Linked DNA regions of Homo sapiens. The protein of the gene in region 2 interacts with the protein of the main gene of each other region in a pairwise test. Each region holds a gene or a part of one and is shown on either strand. Other genes may lie near its edges.

Region 1 (3,500 bases), on a different chromosome or scaffold from region 2:
ACTCAGATTTTCTATTTCCTTTGAGTCAGTTTTTATAGTTTATATTCTAGGAATTTGTCATCTATTTCATCAATTTGGTAGCATACAATTATAGTATTCTCTTATAATTGTGTACTTTTTGTAAGGTTGATATTAATGTTCCCATTTTTATACATGATTTTAAAATTTGAGTCTTCTCTCTTTATTCTTAGTCTAGCCAATTTTGTGTGTGTGTGTGTGTGTGTGTGTGTGCAGGGTCTCTGTCACCCAGGCTTGAGTGCAGTGGTGTGATCATAGCTTATAGCTATGTAAATGGAAGTGCAGCCTTAAACTCCTGGGCTCAAGTGACTTTCCCTCTTGTCAGCCTCCTGAGTAGCTGGGTGCACAGGCATGCTGGCGCATGCCTGGTTAATTTCTTAAATAATTTTTGTAGAGACAGGGTCTTGCTATGTTTTCCAGGCTGGTCTCAAACTCCTGGCTTCAAGCAGTCCTCCCACTTTGGCTTCCCAAAGTGCTGGGATTATAGGTGTCAACCATTGTGCTCGGCCTCATCATTTTAAAGAATAAACTTTTGGTTTTGTTGATCATCTATTATTTTTCTAGTCTATATTTCATTTGTATTAGCTGTATTTTTTCCCCCTTGTTTCTGCTTAGTTTGTATTGAGTTTTCTTTTTATAGTTTCTTGAGGTAGAAGTTTAGGTTGCCAATTCAAGATCTTTCTTCTTTTTAAATGTAGTTACTTGTTTCTGTATCCCATAGATTTTGCTATATGTGTTTGTTTTCATTAATTTCAAATTATTTTCTAGTTTTCTTTATGAGTTCTTCTTACTTGTTGATTGTTAAATTTTCATGTATTTGTGAAATTTCCAGATTTCCTCCTGTTAGTGATTTCCCCTCCTCTTTCCTCACCTCCCTTCTCCTCTTCTCTTTTCTTTCATTTTTTGAAACAGAGTCTCACTGTATCACCCAGGCTGGAGTGCAGTGGTGTGATCATGGCTCACTGCAACTTCTGCCTTCTGGGCTCAAGCAATCCTCCCACCTCAGCCTCTCTAGTACCTTGGATTAAAGGTGCACATGCCACCACGCCCGGCTAATTTTTGTATTTTTTGGTAGAGATGGGAGTTTTGCCATGTTGCCCAGGCTGGTCTTAAACCCCTGGGCTCAAGTGATCTGCCTCCCTCGGCCTCCCAAAATGCTGGAATTATAGGCCTGAGCTGCTGTTCCTGGCCTCTGTTACTGATGTCTAATTTCCTTTCATTGTCATTGGAAAAGATACTTTGTATGAGCTTAATATTTTCAAATTTGTTGAGACTTGACTTGTAGTGTAGTATTTTAGACTTTGGTCTTTGAGAATGTTTTTATGCACTTCAGAAGAATGTGTATTCTATTTTGTGTAGTGTTCTAGAGATATCTGATAGGCCATGTTTAAGTCTTGTTCAAGTGTTCAGTTTACTTGTTCATCTCTTGTCTGGTTGTTCTATCCATTATTGAAAGTTGTACGTTGTAGTCTCCAAGCATTAATGCGGAACTCTTTTTGGTTTTTTTCCTTTCAATTCTGTCAGTTTTTGCTATATGTATTGTTCCATGCTTTTACTCTCAATCTGTGTATATTTTTGGATCTAAATTGAGTCTCTTGTAAACAGTATATAATTGGATTGTGTTTTTACATTTTATCCTGTTATTCATTGTGTCTTTCTTTTTGAGACAGGGTCTCAGTCTGTTGTCCAGGCTGGAATGCAGTGGCACGATCACAACTCACTGCAGCCTCGACCTCCTGGGCTCAAGCTATTCTCCAACCTCAGCCTCCCATGTAGCTGAGACCATAGGTGCATACCACTATGGCTGGCTAATTTTGTCATTTTTTTTGTGGAGACAGGGTCTTGCCATGTTGCCCAGGCTGGTCTTGAACTCCTGGGCTCAAGTGATCCACTCAACACAGCCTCCCAAAAGTGCTGGGATTGCAGGTGTGAACCACTGTGCCTGGCCCTGGCCTTATGTGTCTTAACTGGAAAGTTTAGCCCATTTACATTTAGTGTAATTAGTGATAAGGAAATACATTTACTATTTTATTATTTGTTTTCTCTATGTCTTATATATTTTTTGTTTGTCAATTCCTCTGATGCTGTTCTTTGTGTCAGATATTTTCTAGTGTACCATTTTGATCCCCTTCTCATATATACATATAATTCTCACATTATATAAATAAATATAACATATCTAAATATATTAATATATTTAGATATATATTTATATTAATATATATTTAGATATATTATATTTAGATATATATTAATAAAAATTTAATATATTTAGATATATATTATATTTATATTAATATATTTAGATATATATTATATTTATATTAATATATTTAGATATATATTATATTTATATTAATATAATATATTTAGATATGTTATATTTATGTAATGTGAGAATATGTATATATGAGAATTATATATATAAATAAAATATAGTAAATAATTATGTGTGTATTTCTTAGTATTTACCCTGGGGGTTATAATTAACACTATATATTATAACAATTTAGTTTGAATTAATACCAGTTTAGTTTCAGTGGTATATAAAAACTTTGCTCCTGTATTTGTTGTTATTGTCACAAGTTACAGCTTTATGAATTTTGTGCCAATCAATATAGATTCATAATTACTGTTTTATGTAGTCTTTTAAATCATATAGCAAAGAGGAGGCATTGCAAACCAAAGACACAGTAATATGCACTTTTATATTTACCTATGTAAATACCAACAATTACTGGTATCCTTTAGTTCATATGTGATTTTAAGCCACTGTCTGATCCCCTTACATTTCAGCCTGATGGACTCTTTATAGTATTTCTTTTAGGGGAAGTTTACCAGTGACAAACTTCCTCAGTTTTTGTTTATCTGGAAATATCTTAATTTTGCCTTTATTTTTAAAGGGTTGTTTTACCAGATAGAGGATTCTTGGTTGACAGTTTCCTTTCAGCATTTTGAATATGTTATCCCACTGCCTTCTGGTCTCCATGGTTTCCAGTGAAAAATCAGTTGTTGATTGTATTGAGTGTCCTTTTCACGAGTTGCATTTTTCTTGCTGCTTTCAGGGTTCTCTCGGTTTTTGTCTTTCAACAATTTGATTATGATGCATCTTGATATGAATCCTTTTGCATTTATCCTGCTTGGAATTCATTGAGTTTATGAGCTAGATTCATGCCTTTCATCAGATTTGGAAAGTTTTAGCCATTATTTCTTCAAATATTTAGGCCTCTTTCACTCTCTTTTCCTTCTGTGCCTCCAATTATATGTATATTAGTATGTTTGGTGGGGTTCCACATGTATGTTCATTTTCCTTCAGTCCACAGACTCAGTAATTTTAATTTACCTATCTTTAGGTTTGCTGATTCTTTCTTCTTGTAGAGGTTCAAGGGATTTTGATGTTTCTCAAGAAAGAGATATGATTATAAGAAGTGGTAACACACAACAAGCTTCATTTGGTGGCACTTGGACAGGATTATATGAGA
Region 2 (3,500 bases):
TTGGAGAATTAATAGAGACCGTGCATATAAAGTAGGTACCACAGTTCCTGGCCTGGCACATGGTAAGTACTCAACCAATGGTAACCATCACCATTATTATTATTATTATTATTATTGAAGGTTTTAAAGTAGAATAGTGACCCAGTATCTTGTTTTTTGATGGCTAATTCTGGCCATATTGTGTGCAACAAATTATTGGAGGGCAAGAAGCTTAAAGCAGGTTGTCTAATTAGAAGATTAATGGAGTAGTCCAAGTGAGGGATGACCAAGGCATGAAAAACTAGATACGACACAAATTCCTACTAATATTAGAAGGTAAGTATATTGGATGAGTGATTGAGTATGGAAGTGAAATAGGTGAGCAACAGTTTTTTAGGAAACAATAATCAGAATAATTTTGCTTTAGGGCTAGATTAAATTGGGCAATTGTAGTTAGATGCAAAGATTGGAATGATATGTAAAAGACTGAGAATGGTTAAATTGAGAAGAACCTTGAAAATAAGATCCAAAGTTTTCTTTTTCTTTATTCTTTAGTCATTAAGAAACTACCCCAAGTTTTTGAGTAGGTTAATTTACTACTTTGTTCAGTCAAAGAGGAAGAAGAGATTTTTCTAGTAAATGATAAGAACTTGAACTAGTATTGCAACAGTGGAGATTTAAGAAAATTGAATTTGAAGAATCAATAGGACTTAGAGTTCAGAAAGAGAACAATGACATTAAGTGTGAGTGATAGAGAATGGTGATACCTTAACAGGTGTAAGCCAGGAAGGGGAGCCAATTTTGAGGGAAAGGTATATTTAAAAACCACCACAAATTAAAAGAGACCCAATGGATACCTTGAAATTTTGAAGACAATGCTGTTGGATTTATTGAATCTTTCCTTAAAGCATGTGGCCAATCCATACTTCTACTCCTGGCAAGCAAATGGTTATATCATTCTTCATGATGAGGCTTTTTTTTTTTTTTTTTTTTAACCCTCAAGACAGGATCTTGCTCTGTCACCCAGGCTGTAGTGCAGCGCCATGATCATAGCTCACTGCAGGTTCAAACTTCTGGGCTCAAGCGATCCCCCAACTCAGCCTCCCAAGTAGCTGGGACTACAGGCACACACCACCATGCCTGGCTAATTTTGTTTATTTTTTATGGAGACAGAGGTCTCACTATGTTGCCCAGATTGGTCTCAAATTCCTGGGCTCCAGTGACTGTCCTGCCTTGGCCTCCCAAAGTGCTGCAGTTACAGGTGTGAGCCACCACGCCCAGCCATGATCAGCCTTTTGATGTCTCCTTTTGTCAAAAGAAAATTGTCCTTGTGTTGGTATAAAGACATATGCTACAGGAGCAGCATTCTGAAGACTTCAATTTCAACTATGGCTCTACTTCTTACTAGTGAAACCCCTGGAGAAGCAACTTAATGTCTCTGAACCTGTTATCTATCATTTGTGAAATGGGAGATAAAACTTGCCTGACCCTAACCCCAGCACTTTGGGAGGTGGAGGCGGGCGGATCACTTGAGGTCATATGTTCGAGACCAGCCTGGCCAACATGGTGAAACCCCGTCTCTATTAAAAATATACTAATTAGCCGGGTGTGATGGTGGGCGCCTGTAATCCCAGCTACTCGAGAGGCTGAGGTAGGGAGAATCGCTTGAACCTGGGAGGCAGGGGTTGCCATGAGCTGAGATCTCACCATTGCACTCCAACTGGGGCAACAGAGCGAGACTCTGTGGAAAAAAAAAAAACAAAAACTTGCCTGACCAAACTCAAAGGATGTCCCTGGGAATCATGTAGGATTATGTATGTGAAAGTACTTGGTCAACTATGAATAAAACACTATAAATATATTGTCATTGCTACATAAATTAGTGTCGTTAAACAAGTATTTTGGAAACTATAATCATTAATTCTGTAAACATTTCTTAATACCTATGTTTTTCCTGTTTGTTTTTTTTTTTTTTTTTTTTGGTTTTGGTTTTTTTTTGAGATGGAGTCTCACTCTGTTGCCCTGGCTGGAGTACAGTGGCATGATCTCGGCTCACTGCAACCTCTGCCTCCCAGGTTCAAGCAACTCTCCTGCCTCAGCCTCCCAAGTAGCTGGGATTATAGGCATCTGCCACCACGCCCCGCTAATTTTTGTATTTTTAGTAGAGACGGGATTTCGCCATGTTGGCCAGGCTGTTCTCAAACTCCTGACCTCAAGCGATATACCCACCTTGACCTCCCAAAGTACTGGGATTACAGGCATGAGCCACTGCACCTGGCCAGTTCTTAAGTTTTAGATAGGTTTTGATAATGGTGGAACTTAGAATGGATAAGACTTGTGGGCCAGAAACTTGAGCCTATGATGACTAGTTTTCTTTTGAGAGAAAGTCTCACTCTCGCCCAGGCGGGAGTACAGTGGCCCAATCCCGGCTTACTACAACCTCTGCTTCCAAGGTTCAAGCAATTCTCGTGCCTCAGCCTCCCCAGTAGTTAGGATTATAGGAGCCCGACACCATGCCCAGCTAATTTTTGTATTTTTAGTACAGATGGGTTTCACCATGTTGGCCAGGCTGGTCTGAAACTCCTGACCTCAGGTAATCCACCCGCCTTGGCCTCCCAAAATGCTAGGATTACAGATTTAAGCCACGGCACCCAGCCTATGATTAGTTTAATAGATAGCAGGGACAAGGGTAAACTAGCCAGAAGGCATGAATCTCAAAGGAGGAGGCATTTTTTTTCCCTTAGTGGAGAGATGATGTTGGAAGTGCTAATGCGGAGCTAAGAGAATGCTGAAGCCTCCACTGAGATTAGTGGAATGCGGAAAAATGAGCACCATCCACTTTGAAAAAAGAATTTGATAAGTGTTGTCCTTCAGGAGACCCAAGATGTAATTAAACTAGAGAGATGAAGACAGTATTCTGTGTAGAGCTAAAGAAGAGAGAGGCCAAGCGCGGTGGCTCACGCCTGTAATCCCAGCACTTTGGGAGGCTGAGGTGGGTGGATCACCTGAGGTCAGGAGTTCAAGACCAGCCTGACCAACATGGAGAAACCCAGTCTCTACTAAAAATACAAAATTAGCCAGGCGTGGTGGTGCATGCCTGTAATCCCAGCTACTTGGGAGGCTGAGGCAGGAGAATCACTTGAACCTGGGAGGCAGACGTTGCGGTGAGCTGAGATTGCACCATCGCACGCCAGCCTGGGCAACAAGAGCAAAACTCCGTCTCAGAAGAAAAAAAAAAAAAAAAAAAAAACCAGTCTGGCCAACATAGTGAAACCCCATCTCTACTAAAACTACAAAAAATTGGCTGGGCGTGGTGGCTCACGCCTGTAATCCCAGCACTTTGGAAGGCCGAGGCAGGCGGATCACGAGGTTAAGGGTTCGAGTCCAGCCTGGCCAACATGGTGAAACCCCGTCTCTACTAAAAATACAAAGATTAGCCGGGCATGGTGGTGCACGCCTGTAATCCCAGCTGCTCAGGAGGCTGAGGCAGGAGAATCGCTTGAACCTGGGAGGCAGAGGTT

Evidence for each region.
Region 1: the proteins of PPP3CB (region 2) and FBXL17 interact in a two-hybrid assay, tested with the Homo sapiens proteins (one large-scale study listed by BioGRID).

What each region holds. Positions count from the first base shown.
Region 1 is NC_000005.10:108,372,099-108,375,598, reverse strand, and holds part of FBXL17 (F-box/LRR-repeat protein 17), read left to right. Parts: intron 1-3,500. UniProt on the Homo sapiens protein: Substrate-recognition component of the SCF(FBXL17) E3 ubiquitin ligase complex, a key component of a quality control pathway required to ensure functional dimerization of BTB domain-containing proteins (dimerization quality control, DQC).
Region 2 is NC_000010.11:73,486,025-73,489,524, reverse strand, and holds part of PPP3CB (serine/threonine-protein phosphatase 2B catalytic subunit beta isoform), read left to right. Parts: intron 1-3,500. UniProt on the Homo sapiens protein: Calcium-dependent, calmodulin-stimulated protein phosphatase which plays an essential role in the transduction of intracellular Ca(2+)-mediated signals.